3 separate regions of the Homo sapiens genome follow, and all the other regions are reported to be linked to region 1. The links are microRNA targets in miRTarBase. Many come from high-throughput screens and were not tested one by one. Region 1 holds a microRNA gene; each other region holds the end of a gene's coding sequence.

Region 1 (4,244 bases):
AAGTTTCAGCTGCACCTGTTTGGTTCATTCACATAAAGTATCTAAAATAAAGACAGGAGTGCCAAGGCCATGCAAAGTAGGTTGCTAGTGATGGTTTCCTTTGCCCAGCGATCTGGGTTAAATGAACACCACGGCCTCCCCAGCGTTCCTTGTTCTTCCTTCCCTGACGTTTATCACCCTTCTGATTATTTTATATTTGTATTGTCTACCTCTTGCATGAGAAAGACCTCCAAGAGGGCAGGGTTCGGGGCCTATTTTGTTCACTGTTGCATTCGTAACGTCTAGAGTAACACCTGATGCTCGGGAGGTGAAAATACACTGATTGCTAAACGACTGAGGTCTATGAGACCATGCCAGGTTTACAGTAAGCACCCCAAGACTGCCGATTTTCCCAGTTCCTATTCCTGGCATCCTTAGCACCAGAGTAAACCACAGCCCTCCTGCTTGGTTAGTCCTTAACTCACTTGTGGTCACAAACAGGAGAAATGCAAATCACTTAAGCATAGAAGTCAAACCAGACTGAATCATGTCAGGGACTCCAAACCTTGCCTTTCTCTGGAGGTGAGAGATCCTGACCTAATTCCTTTGTATGGATGACTACTCTCCCAGTCAACCGCTCCACTCTTTACCTCCCATTCTCTTACAAAGTTGATTTAAGTTTTCTTAAAATTCAGTATATTCAGACTATCTTGTGGAGATGTACAGACATAAGAACTAGGAAAGAGAATCCTCTTCCTCAAGTAAGCATACCTTACATCTCAAATGAACACAAGACGTACTTGAGTTTGGATCACTTTATTTAACTGCACAGAAATAATTCAGCCATTTTTGGGTAAAGGATTGAGGAACAAAAGCAAAGCAGTCACTGATGGAAAAGTGGGAGAATGGATAATGGCCACACAAAAGAGAACACATGCTGCCTTAGGATCAATACACAGCATTTCTGTGAAAAGCAACTGGTAGGTCCTGCCATTAAGCTCTAACATCAAGCAGCTGAATACTTTCTCCCTCATTGAGCCTTCCTCCATTATCATCCCTCTCCCGATGATAAACCACTGGAATATACCTAAGTAAAAAAAATGGTGGCTTTCTTTACCAAGGGCTTCCCAGAGACACAAGCAACCCCCAGGTTTCTGAAGCATCCCATAAAATACATCAGAAGGCCCTTCCCTTACCTGTCAGCACCACGGGCACAGGAACCATTTCCTTTTTTCCCTACCACCCTGCGTCCTGTGCCTGGCCAAAAGCTCATAAAACCAAAACAGGGCAATGTCCATGGAACAGGACTACAATTTGGTGCCAGTCACTGACCCACTATAGAGAGCAGGCTATTGATAGAAACTCACCAACCCAAACCTCCATTCCACTAGGGATGAGAGAGCAGTCTCTCCACCTAAAGGATCTCCACAGCCCAAAAGCATAAATGTCCCCCTCCCCCAGTGGCTTTCAAAATGCTTTCTTGGAAAAAGTTCTTCCTTTCCATTAATAAAACTTACTTTAAAAAACAAAAGTGAACTGCATCTAAATCGGAAGCAGAATTGAGACTAGATCTCCAAACTCAATCCCTGCAGGCTGTCATTTATCCAGCAGGTCGCTTGAGTAAAAGGACCATTATCTGTGGCTTTTGTACAAATACATTTCCTTCTTTAAGGGTAGAGAGTTTAAATTCCTGCAAGGCACTGCACACTAACACACCCATTAATAAATCTGCAGCTCTCCTGGCTCAGTTTAAGTGAGGCCAGTCTTTCAGTACCTGTTAAGCAACCTTGAAAAGTCCAAAGCTTTATTTTTTTCTTCTTTAAACCAAAAAATTCTACAGTCAGGAGTCCACCAGGGTAAGATGAAGAGATTTGGGGGGATTTTGTTCCCATTTACAGGGTTTAACCCACCCGCTTCAAGGGAATTGGTCAAGTTCCTCGTGCTGCACTTGGACCCCCTCTGGCCTTGCCCCTCCCCCAAGGGAAAGGCGCAGCGACGTGGCCACCAGGGCCACTCGGCCTGGCGTCTGGAGCACTGGCGGCATCGGCGACCACAGCCTCTAGAGACAAAGTTCTGTAGTGCACTGACTTCTATCATACTCAGAGTCGGAGTGTCTCAGAACTTTGCCTCAAAAGACCAAACGTGCTGTCTTCCTCCAGAAGTTTCTTCCTGCAGGTGTGTTCCCCCACCCCCCAGCTAAGACAAAGAAGAATAACTCGTTAAAAGCAATTTAGTTCAGGATGCGACCGATAATGGAACGGGTCATTAATTATGGAAAGTTACTGCCGCAGTCAGCAGGAGCAAATGCCCAACAGAAATGGTGTTTTAACAGCCCGATTCGACAAATTCTGGTCGCAATGTCACAGCAAAGGGGCTGCAAGAATCGCACACTCTCCTTCCTTCCTACCCGTCCTCAGATTAGAACCCATTCCTGGTCGAACCCTCACCTCCCTCGGTAGTTATTTAAACTTTTGCCAGCAGCTAACTCACTCTAACTTGTGGCAACTTTTTACCTTCCCATCTGGAAAGCTGGGGGCGGGGGCGCTGCACGAGGACGAATATTCGGAGCTGAAAGAGTTAAACGGTGGGGAACAAATACAGGCCCGGGAAAAGCCCCTAAGATGGGACGACCCAAGAAAGACCCGCTTTGCGGGGCCTCCCCTGAGACCCCCTTCCCCAGCCATTCCCAGTACTCTATTCCCGGTCTTCCAGCCGCCCGCGCCCAGCCCCGGGAACTCGGGTCGAAGTCGTCCCATCCCCTCCGTTCCACCCACCCACTCTTTGGGATTCTCCCTGCCCCATTAGGCAGTGCTTCCCGCGGACCCCGTTCGCGCACAACCTTGCACACAGTCCCCAAGACTGCTCTTCTCCCCCTCCCGGCACCCCCTTTTCCCTGCAGCATAAGCGACCACTCTGTCCCCCATCCTAGCAGACCCCCTCCCCCCACATACCGCACCTGAACAGCTGTTGCGCGCGTGCAACAGGTCTGGAAAGTGCTTTCCCATCTTCCCCCAAACCCCTCGCCACCGTTCCATCCCCCGCCACCCCTAAGAGACAAGGCCGGAGGGGCAGTGGGCTGCGTCCCCCGGGCCGGGGTGCACGGGCGGCTGGCGGAGTGCGGGGCGCCCAGAGGCTCCCGGGGTTGGGGGCGGTGGTCGCGCTGGGCCGGGACACCTTCGCGAGTGGCCCCTCGTGCGCCCGCCGCAGGCTCCCCAGCCTGCCCCTCCAGCGCCGGCCGCCAGGCATTCCCGGGCCGGCTCCCCCCTCGCGCTCCGCTCCGCTCCCTTCCATCTTGACTTTTGCCGACGTGGAAATTTTGGGTTTGGAGACGACCTGCGCTCTTATTGGCTGCCGGCGGGCGGGGTCGGAGGTCACGGCTGCTCTCGCTATTCCGCGCCAAGGGGAGCCGCACAGCGGCTCGTGTCAAGTCAGCAGGTTCCCTCCGCCTCCCCCGGGGTCACGTGCGCCCCGGGCGGGCCCGGGAGACGCCTCCTTATGCAAATAGAGCGGCCGCGCGGGGCTGGGGGCGGGGGCGGGGTGGGCGGTGGCGCGTGGGGGCGGGGGCGGGGGCGCGGCCGGCGCTGGGAGGGCGGGGCGCTCCAGGTGGCCACCTGGCTCGACGTCCCGCCCCGCCCTTCTGCCCACCAGCCTCTGCCAGGCTGCCTGTTCCGCTTCCCGCGACACTCGGGCCGGGCGCTGTCCCCGGCCAGCCCCGCTGGGCCCAGGGAGCCCGCGTTTTGCAAGATGCCCCTGAATGCCCGCTTTCCCCGGAGCCCCCTCCTCCAAACCCAGCCGGAGCCCTGCCTGGGCCCGGTGTCTCCTGGCTGGGGAGGAGGCGGCGGCGAAGCTGCTGCAGGGCAGAGTGCGAAATGGAAACCTCGGGAGGACAGTTTCCTCCCCTGGCAGGGAGTTGAGAACTAAATGCGAGATTCCCGGTAAGGGAATTCTAGGACAAAGCAAAATCAAGAATTCATCAAGGTTAAAAGTCGTTTCTTTTAATAAACTGCCCACCACCCATCCCCAAATAAAAAGAGGCCAAAGAGCTAACTAAAAGTAGTAAAAATGCCAGTTCTGGATTTTTTTTTTTAACACGTCTACAAGGACTAACCGAAAGGCCGGTTTGCCTCCACCCTGACGTCTGCTGGGTACTGGGCACCCGAGACTGAACCAGGGGACACGTCCTCCTCTCCTCATCTAGATGGGGGTGTGACTCGGGGGAGCTCAGAATTCCCTGAGAAGAGGTCACGGGCACGTAGAATCAATTT
Region 2 (4,244 bases), not on the chromosome of region 1:
GTGTCCTTATATTTTTGGTTGAATAAACAAAAGGACACTGAAGGCTGCCTTTGTAGCTTCCCCTATACCAAGTGAACATTTATTAAATAAGCTCAGCTACAGAGCATTTTCAGAAATCTCAGTGCAGCTTCATAATCATTAAGCAGAATATTTATCTAAAAACCTCTAACACTTAATACCAGTTACTCAGTATCTTAACCAACATGAAAATACAAAACAACCTTTTATTTTCAAGTAGTCCCCTCAGTTCTCTTTTATGATTAAGGGAACATTTGAATCTTTTCTAAAGTTTTTCCTTTTGATCCAAATCACTTCCCCTCTACTTTTCTAATGGCTTTATAACCCTTCAACAGTAGGTGGTGCCACAAATGCACAAAAGTAAATTTCTGTAGACCAACAGAACTGTCACAGCTTTATTTTGTGACTCATTATATTACAACATAGAAATATGCATTTTAATACTTCATATAAAGTTATTGACATACAAAATTTTTTTTCTTTTTTCCTTTTAATGAAAATGATTTAACTTAGAAATCTGTTGTGAAACTTTTGTCTAGTTTTGCAATTCTCAGATATTCCAGTGCAAAAATAGATCCCATTACAGACAGCGTAAAGTGCTTGGAATGAGGGCCAATGATGAACAAAGAGCACAAAAACAGCTTCATCTTAGGGTATAAGAAGGGATAATAGCATACCTAAATCCTTATGGAAATAGAAACATTCTAAGGGGGATGCAACAATTTTGAAAAGAATTAGAGCAATATTTCTACAGTATTACATTATTACTAGTAGATAATAACAAGGGTACAAATTAATGTCTCAATATCAAAGTGGTTCAGTATTACATGACACATGGCTCTTTGGAAAATATTTTACCTGATATATACAACCACAAGAAGAAAACACAGACAAATGGCTTTAGTCAATGATTACTATACAGTGAATGAATGATGTGCAACATTTAATAGTCACAAAGCATTTGCTTTCAGTACAGATAATGAAATACAGTAGTGTGAGGTTTGGTTGTTTTTTAACAATGAATTGTGCTGGGCATTTATGTATAGAGGGCTTATTATTTTCTTCTGTATTTCTCATATTCACAGTTGTTAATAAGTTTTCTGAGGTGTCCCAAAGATGCAAAAGCAGAAATTTTTGAACACGTATTTTGAGAATTTCTGAAACTCACATAGGTACATTCCACAGGGAATATACAGAAATTTTGCTTGATTGAGTATAGAGTTGGTAAAAATTTCTACCACAATTAGGTTTACACAGGAAAATGTAAAAAATTACTATTTTAAAAGGTAACACAGTATTAATGAAGATGTATAACTATAGATTGTTTCTAGCTTCAGAAGAGGTCCTTTCAATCTGTATTAAAATGTTGTGTTTTCTTCAAAATAGTTCACAGTGCCTTTTGATTTTTTAAAATATGGCCTTGAAATCAGAGGAACCGAAGTAAGGAGTTGCTCATAGATTTACTATAATGAAGAATTAGAATACGATTTTAGTAAAATGAGGAAACCATAACTTTGATTTTGAAAAATATTAAATGAGGAGAAATTATTCTATAAATTCTGTATTTTTGAAGATACTGTAAAATGCAACGATGCCATATCACTAGTTATTGGAAATATGCCTTCATTACTTATATTTAAAATCAATATTGACTTTAACTTCTAAAACAATCATTTTTTTCTTTTTCAGCAGTGGGTTATATAATATTCTGTAAATTTAAAAAATATAGAAAGATTAATTTGAAATCTGAAGTCTTACACCTTTAGCGTTAATATTCAAATTCTGGAAAAAGTGGAAGAAGTTAGTAATGATATTGAAAGATCACTTGAACTTCCCCAAACAATAGTTCTCTCATATTTTTCTTTTCTCTCAAGACAGTTAACAGTAAGTATTAGTGAAACAGTATTTTTACAAATGTTTACTGACTAGAAAAATAAGACTGGGTTAGAAAACTCTGAAAAATGCTCCATATGGAAGTATTTGTTGTTTTTATATTTTTCTTGACTAGTGATTGAAGAGATGAAAAATTTGAGACTGTCAGATTTAATGGGGTATCCAATATCTGCAAAGCCAATTATTTGAAGGTACTAAATGCCATAAACACAAGTTGTGTTTTTCAGCAAGTTTTCAAGCTAGCTGTTTTCCCTGTTGAAGAATTCATTGTTTAGACTTGTGACCCTTATACTTTCTTGGCTTTTGCATTGTTGCAATTAAAAAAAAAAAAAAAAAGGCTGCCCAGTATTGTTACAGTGGGCTCCTACAACCACAAGACAACCTATATTTGTAAACCAGTGAGCTGAATAACATGGCACAGGAAGTGTACTGAGACTTAATATCTCTCTAGTCTTATACGTACGTACATACTCTTTCAGCTACAGCATACACTCAAAAAATATTTGATTGATGAAGTGAGATTAAGAGTATCCTAAATGATCTGAAAGAAACTCAAATATAATGTCATGAGATCCTGACCATCACATTGCTTTCTAGGCACTAGTCATGACTGATATGCAAACTTACATAAGAAAATAAAAATAGTGGGGCAGTGGCCATACTCCTCTATACCACAGGGTTCTACAAAGAGGCCATTCTAAGGATTCAGAAGTCACTGATAGAACTTAAAATTCCAAATAACATTAAAAAGTACAAACATTTTTGTCAAAATACAACTCCATCTTTTCATTTTCTAGATTAATTCAAAAAGCCAGAAATAATACACTTGTGTCAGATAAACATCTTGAGATGCAGTGTACCATGTTAGCAGACAGTCAGGACAAATGGGCACAGGCTTCCCTAGGTTTGAACGCACAATCTCTTTAATCCCATGCCCTGGCTTCAGCAGCTTGCAGCCCCAGCAGTTTGGCTGTTGATTCTTTGCCTCTTACCAGGATCTAAGTATATTTAAGAGTCTCATAAGGATGACCCTGTAGACCCATGGCTCGAAGCATAGGACAATATAACAATGGAACCAAGTTTCCCGTGCCTGGAGACACCCACATTTTTGTTGCATGTTACTGCCACCAGAACAGCTTATCAGAGGGAATCAAAGCAGGATGTTAGCCACGCATGGCACCATTCTGTCAACTGATATTCAATGTTGATAGACTCTGAGCAGAGCAGCTTTCACAAAAGTGAGCATGACACACCATGGTGCTTCAAACTTTCTGAAAAACTTGGCACTAATAACTCTGGCACACTCATTGCCAGCAATGGATGTGTCACCGGGAAACCAGTCTCCTGGGCATGGCATGGCTTAGTGAATGAGGATGTGCATTACCTTTTGATTTTGATCAATAATCGCTGGCCATGATTACTTGATGAATTATTGTTGCAACCCCAATGAGAATACACAGGAACAAAAAAAAAAAAAAAAGTGTGAGTTCAAACCCATATGTCCATTGGGTTCCATAATAGAGTTTCACATAGGTATAGGTAAAAAACTAAATTCAAGTCTTTCACTTGAGAGCCATACAAGACATAGGCTACAAAGGCACTGCCCCTGTAATGGAATTTTGTTTTCATTGCATTGAATTGCATTGCATTGAATAGTATCAGTACAGTATCCAGTTTACTTCTTCCCACATCAACTTCTGGCTCTTTTCTCCACAACACTTCACATGGTGCAAAGGAAAGTCTAGTTCCTCTTTACTTTCAGCCACCCCGTATGAACAGGATTCTTCATACATAGCTTTCTTTCACTTTCTCATCCTGTAGAAAAGATGTGAGAACTGCAACGTCCACTACTGTCTGGTTTTTGTGTAATGAGAGGTCTTTTAAGTGGTCATCATCACTTTGGTCCTTGGCAAAGTTCACAAATACCTGTTAAAAGATTAAGATGGACCTTTATAAATACCACTCAACTTGCTCATTCTTTATTCTAGTTCTATTTTTCCAGATGTTGAAATTAGGTCAAGTAGGAGCATACAGAATTACATAAATGGATTAACTAGAAAACTGTGTGTGAAGGAGGGAAGAATACTTGAAAAAAGCAATAACAACTTAAAAATAGACTTTTTTTCCCCCCTTGAAATGGGGTCTTGCTCTGTCCCCAGGCTGGAGTGCAGTGGCGAGACCTTGGCTCACTGTAACCTCCACCTCCTGGGTTCGAGCAATTCTCCTGCCTCAGCCTCGCAAGTAGCTGGGACTACAAGTGCGCACCACCATGCCCAGCTAATTTTTGTATTTTTAGTAGAGACGGGGTTTCACCCTGTTGGCCAGGATTATCT
Region 3 (4,213 bases), not on the chromosome of region 1:
AAAATTCATCAAGCTATACACTTTATGTTTAGTTTATTGCATACTTTAAACATGTATCATTTATTGTACAAATAAAGCTATTAAACACAAAAGCCAGGAAGAGGTTGAAGCCATACTCTTTTCCCAGCCTGCCCAGTCAGATAAGTCCGTCTTCCTTCCAGTCCCCAGATTCTCCCTACCCCACACACAGTCCCCTTCTCCCTTAGGAGGTACATTTTATTTCTTCCAGTCTAGTAATAGGACGTCCCCCCACCAAAAACATAAAACAAAAAGTTTTATGAATTACTTGCCGTACACTGTTGAGTGAATTCAGTTTTTGGTTTTTTTTTTTTTTGAGACAGGGTCTCGCTGTGTCACCCAGGCTGGAATGCAGTGGCACAGTCATGGCTCACTGCAGACTTGGCCTCTCTGGGCTCAAACAGTCCTCCCACCTCAGGCTCCTGAGTAGCTGGGATTACAGGTGTGCGCCACAACACCTGTTTAAAAAAAAAAAATTTTTTTTGTAGAGATGGGGTCTCCCTATGCTGCCCAAGCTGGTCTTGAACTCTTGGGATCAAGTTATCCTCCCTCCTCAGCCTCCAAAAGTGTTAAAATTACAGACGTGAGCCATTGCACCCGGCCAATGTGAATCCAGTTTTTAAAAGCCAGATTCTGTATTGCCTGAGAGTAAGTTATCTAGATTGGATTCTCTACAATTGAGAATTTGAAGATAAAATAAAGTGAAAGTTCCTTTAACTTAAGCATTGTTTTGCTCTTACAACATGTAAGGCTGAAACAAGTGCCCATGGGTTTGAAATGAAGCTGTCCTGACCTAGCGTTATTCTCAATGCTAGATGGTGTGTTGAGACCTGTCCCACAGAAGGAAGAGCAGCACCAGGACAAGAAGCTGCGCCTCGGAATCCACTAAGAAGGCCTGTCTACACTGCAGGGGAACCTCAAGAACTTTTCATTGCACTTCTAAAATTCAGCCTTGTTCATTCAGAAAATAAGGATGGATTTTGTGAATAATTGAAAAGATTTTTTAAGGAAGCTAATTTATTTCTAGGATACAAATGGTGTTAATAAGAATATTTGTCTTTTAGATTTATGTGTGGGTTTTCCATAATGTAGTAGTGTGTTATTTTATTACACGAAATGAGGGAGCAATAACTTCAACCAATGTAATCACCAACAGGGACTGATTTCTATTTATCTTGACTTTATATTAGCCAATTTGAAAGGGTCTGCTTCACAAGAGGTCATGCCTCTGCAGGGAATCACACACCTTTTGAGAAATATTAATTCTTTTGAATTACAAGAGTGACAGTTAGTAAACTGCTCCAGGGAAATAAGTGTCATCTTTTAAGAGTCAGTGTATAGCAAACCAAAAGATCACATTTATACCCAAAGCTTTCTAGTAATCAGAATTTACTTAATTAGAATTGACTCATAAAAATAAAGTTAGTGGACTTTGTCTCCATTTTTAAAGTATATTTTGTAAATGTTAATTCTGTGGTCCTGTTTATCACAGACTTTGGGTAGCAATAGGAAGAGAGTGTTATTCTGAGACAGTGTCGCTGCTTGATATCACTGACTCTTGAAATCACTAACAGTGAACCTCAAATTTGGTTATGATGTTAACAGAGAAGAAATATTTGAGTCTGGAATATTGAAACTAGCTTTCCTAGAATTCCATTAATAAATGCTGCTCCCCCATATAGTCTTCCCTTCTGTATAATTAACATAGGTTGTCTCATGGCTTTGATCTTCAAAAGGAAGAGCCTTTTAAAAACATTTGCCAACCTCAAGAATAAATACTGAAAGTCTTGAAAGTATGGTCATTTCAGCTATTCCAGATTGCTGTCTGTGATTTCTCACATTTTTATTTGCTGAGAAACATTCAGAAAATTATTCCAAAAATGAAGGTACATTTTCTGTTCTCTCCTAGGTTAGAGAGGGGTGGCCTGGGGTGCTTCATGAGAAATGTCTTCCTGGATCTGCGGTGGTCAGGTTTGCCTCTGCTTTTGTTCCCTGCCTTTCCGCCACATCACACGGCCTCACTGGGCTTCCTACCAGTTTCTCAGAATTACACGCACGACCATCCAAACATTGGCTCCATGCCAGGGCTGTGACTGCAGCCTGTGTAGGACCATGGGGAGTTCAGAGTCATCATACAAGGCAGCCAAGAACTGCCATAAACACTACACAGATGGAGGGCATGGGATAGGACAGGAGAGGAGGTGATGTACACTTAGAGGTAACTAAGGCTAGTTTGAAAACCGTGAATTAAGATATTCTTATCAGTATAAAAACACTGAGATTGCTTACCTCCCAAATTGCTTTATTGTATTAACTCTCATGCTTCAGCTCTTGGATTTGTTGTTTCTAACTAACATGTCATGTACACCAAACATTTTATAAATCAATCAGTAAATATTTTGTAAGACCCAAAATCCTGGCATATTGCCAGGTCTGTGGATTTGCCTGTTGGGTGTTGGGATGGGATATCAGAGGAAGAAGCATACAAGTGGGAAAAACTGTGATTAGAAAGGGAAAAATAGGCATTTCCACAGTACTATTAAGAGAGGCATGATAATGCCATTTTTTTTCTTCTGTACAACTGGTCAGATTTCAATAAATAATCATTGATGGTTTACTGTGTAGCCTCAGAAGGTGAAGTCTATGAGGGCAGGGAGGTGTGTGTGTGTGTGTGTGTGTACTTTTTAACTGCTGAACCCCAGTGTCTAGAACAGTACCTGGCACACAGTAGGCATTCCATAAATATTTGTTTATTGATTGAATGACTGCTAAACACTGCTAGACTGCGGGGATGAGATGTGTGAGAAATGCCTCCTGATCTTAAGACACTCACAGTCAAGTGGAAGATACAAGCATGGAATCAAGTAATTAAGAAAAATGATTCTCAGGCCAGGTGCCGTGGCTCACACCTGTAATCCCAGCACTTTGGGAGGCTGAGTGGGGTAGATCACTTGAGGTCAGGAGTTCAAGACCAGCCTGGTCAACATGGTAAAACCCCGTCTCTACTAAAAATACAAAAAAAAAAAAAAAAAAAAAAAGCTAGACATGGTATTGCATGCCTGTAATCCCAGCTATTTGGGAGACTGAAGCAGGAGAATCACATGAACCCAGGAGGCAGAGGTTGCAGTGAGCTGAGATCATGCCACTGCACTCCAGCCTGGACAACAGAGCGAGACTTAGTCTAAAAGAAAAGAAAAGAAAAAAATGTCTCTGGACCAGCAGACTATTTGTTAGAAGTGCATATTCTTAGGGTGCTCCCTAGGCTTACTGAATTAGAACCTCTCAGGGTGGGCCCAGCAAGCTGGGGTTTCACGACCTTGCGGGTGATTCTGGTGACCTTTAAGGCTGAGAACTGCCATTGTGGATGTAACTGTAGGAACAGTGGGGGCACACGAGGATTTACCAGCACTCTGGGGAGTCATGGAAAGGACCCTGTAGAGGCAGAGGTGATGAGGTGGGGCCTGAGGGGATCCAGGGGTTTGCCAGGTAAACAGTGGGAATGAGACAAATTTCTGGGAAAAAGTGATGGAGACAGACTGCTGAGCCACCCCAGGAGCCCGCCTGGGTTTGGAGAAGCTCTGTGGGGCACTTTTGACCCAGATCTATAAATTCCCAGTCTTCATCCCTTAGCCTGAGAAATCAGAACTTACACTTAAACAAAAAATACAATGTCTTTCTAAATTTCAAAGAATGGGAGGATGATGGTAAGTTCATAATTTGTAAAAAAAAAAAAAAAAAAAAAAAATAGCTCTGCCATTTGTTTACTGCCTAAGTGGCCACAGAATATGCTACTGTGAGGGGAGCTAAGTGTAAGCATTTGCCTGGCTTCCTTCATCCCAGTCATGCAGAACATACGCAGGTGTGTGTATTTTCATTGTATTGCTGCTGAAGCTTTTTCTTTCCTTTTTCAAGACAGGGTCTCACTCTGTTGCCCAGGCTGGAGTGCAGTGGTGCCTTCATAGCTCACTGCAGCCTTGACTGTTTTCTGTGCTCAAGCGGTCCTCCCCACCTCAGCCTCCCAAGTAGCTGGGACTACAGGCACGTGCCACCACGCCTGGCTAGTTTATTTTTTATTTATTTTTTGTAGAGACAGGGGTCTTGCTATGTTGCCCAGGCTGGTCTTGAACTCCTGGCCTCAAGCAATCCTCCTGCCTCTGCCTCCCAAAGTGCTGTGATTACAGGCATGAGCCACCGC

What was found. Region 1 holds the annotated microRNA hsa-miR-148a-5p (AAAGUUCUGAGACACUCCGACU, at 2,083-2,104, opposite strand). A microRNA usually pairs through its seed, bases 2 to 8, with sites in the 3' UTR of a target mRNA and lowers its output. Matches are read on the target gene's strand: a 7mer-m8 pairs with bases 2 to 8, a 7mer-A1 pairs with bases 2 to 7 and ends in A, and an 8mer does both.
Region 2: the mRNA of ABCA1 is a reported target of hsa-miR-148a-5p. The part of its 3' UTR that is shown has no 7-base or 8-base seed match.
Region 3: the mRNA of CDADC1 is a reported target of hsa-miR-148a-5p. Seed matches in the 3' UTR shown: 7mer-m8 at 939-945.

The regions. Positions count from the first base shown.
Region 1 is chr7:25,947,878-25,952,121 of GRCh38, forward strand. MIR148A (microRNA 148a) reads right to left here and starts at 2,109; the gene lies at 2,042-2,109. The region is part of intron 6 of LOC105375199 (a long non-coding RNA gene); the gene reads right to left. RefSeq lists an enhancer at 150-219 and silencers at 3,063-3,202, 3,333-3,552, 3,673-3,882.
Region 2 is chr9:104,780,619-104,784,862 of GRCh38, forward strand. ABCA1 (ATP binding cassette subfamily A member 1) reads right to left here. Exons shown (of 50, transcript NM_005502.4): 50 at 388-3,837. The coding sequence ends at 3,697. It also overlaps a transcript of NIPSNAP3B not described here. Among named protein-coding and RNA genes, the nearest start is that of NIPSNAP3B, 19 kb to the left of the region's middle.
Region 3 is chr13:49,290,851-49,295,063 of GRCh38, forward strand. CDADC1 (cytidine and dCMP deaminase domain containing 1) reads left to right here. Exons shown (of 10, transcript NM_030911.4): 10 at 834-2,635. The coding sequence ends at 907. Among named protein-coding and RNA genes, the nearest start is that of CDADC1, 45 kb to the left of the region's middle.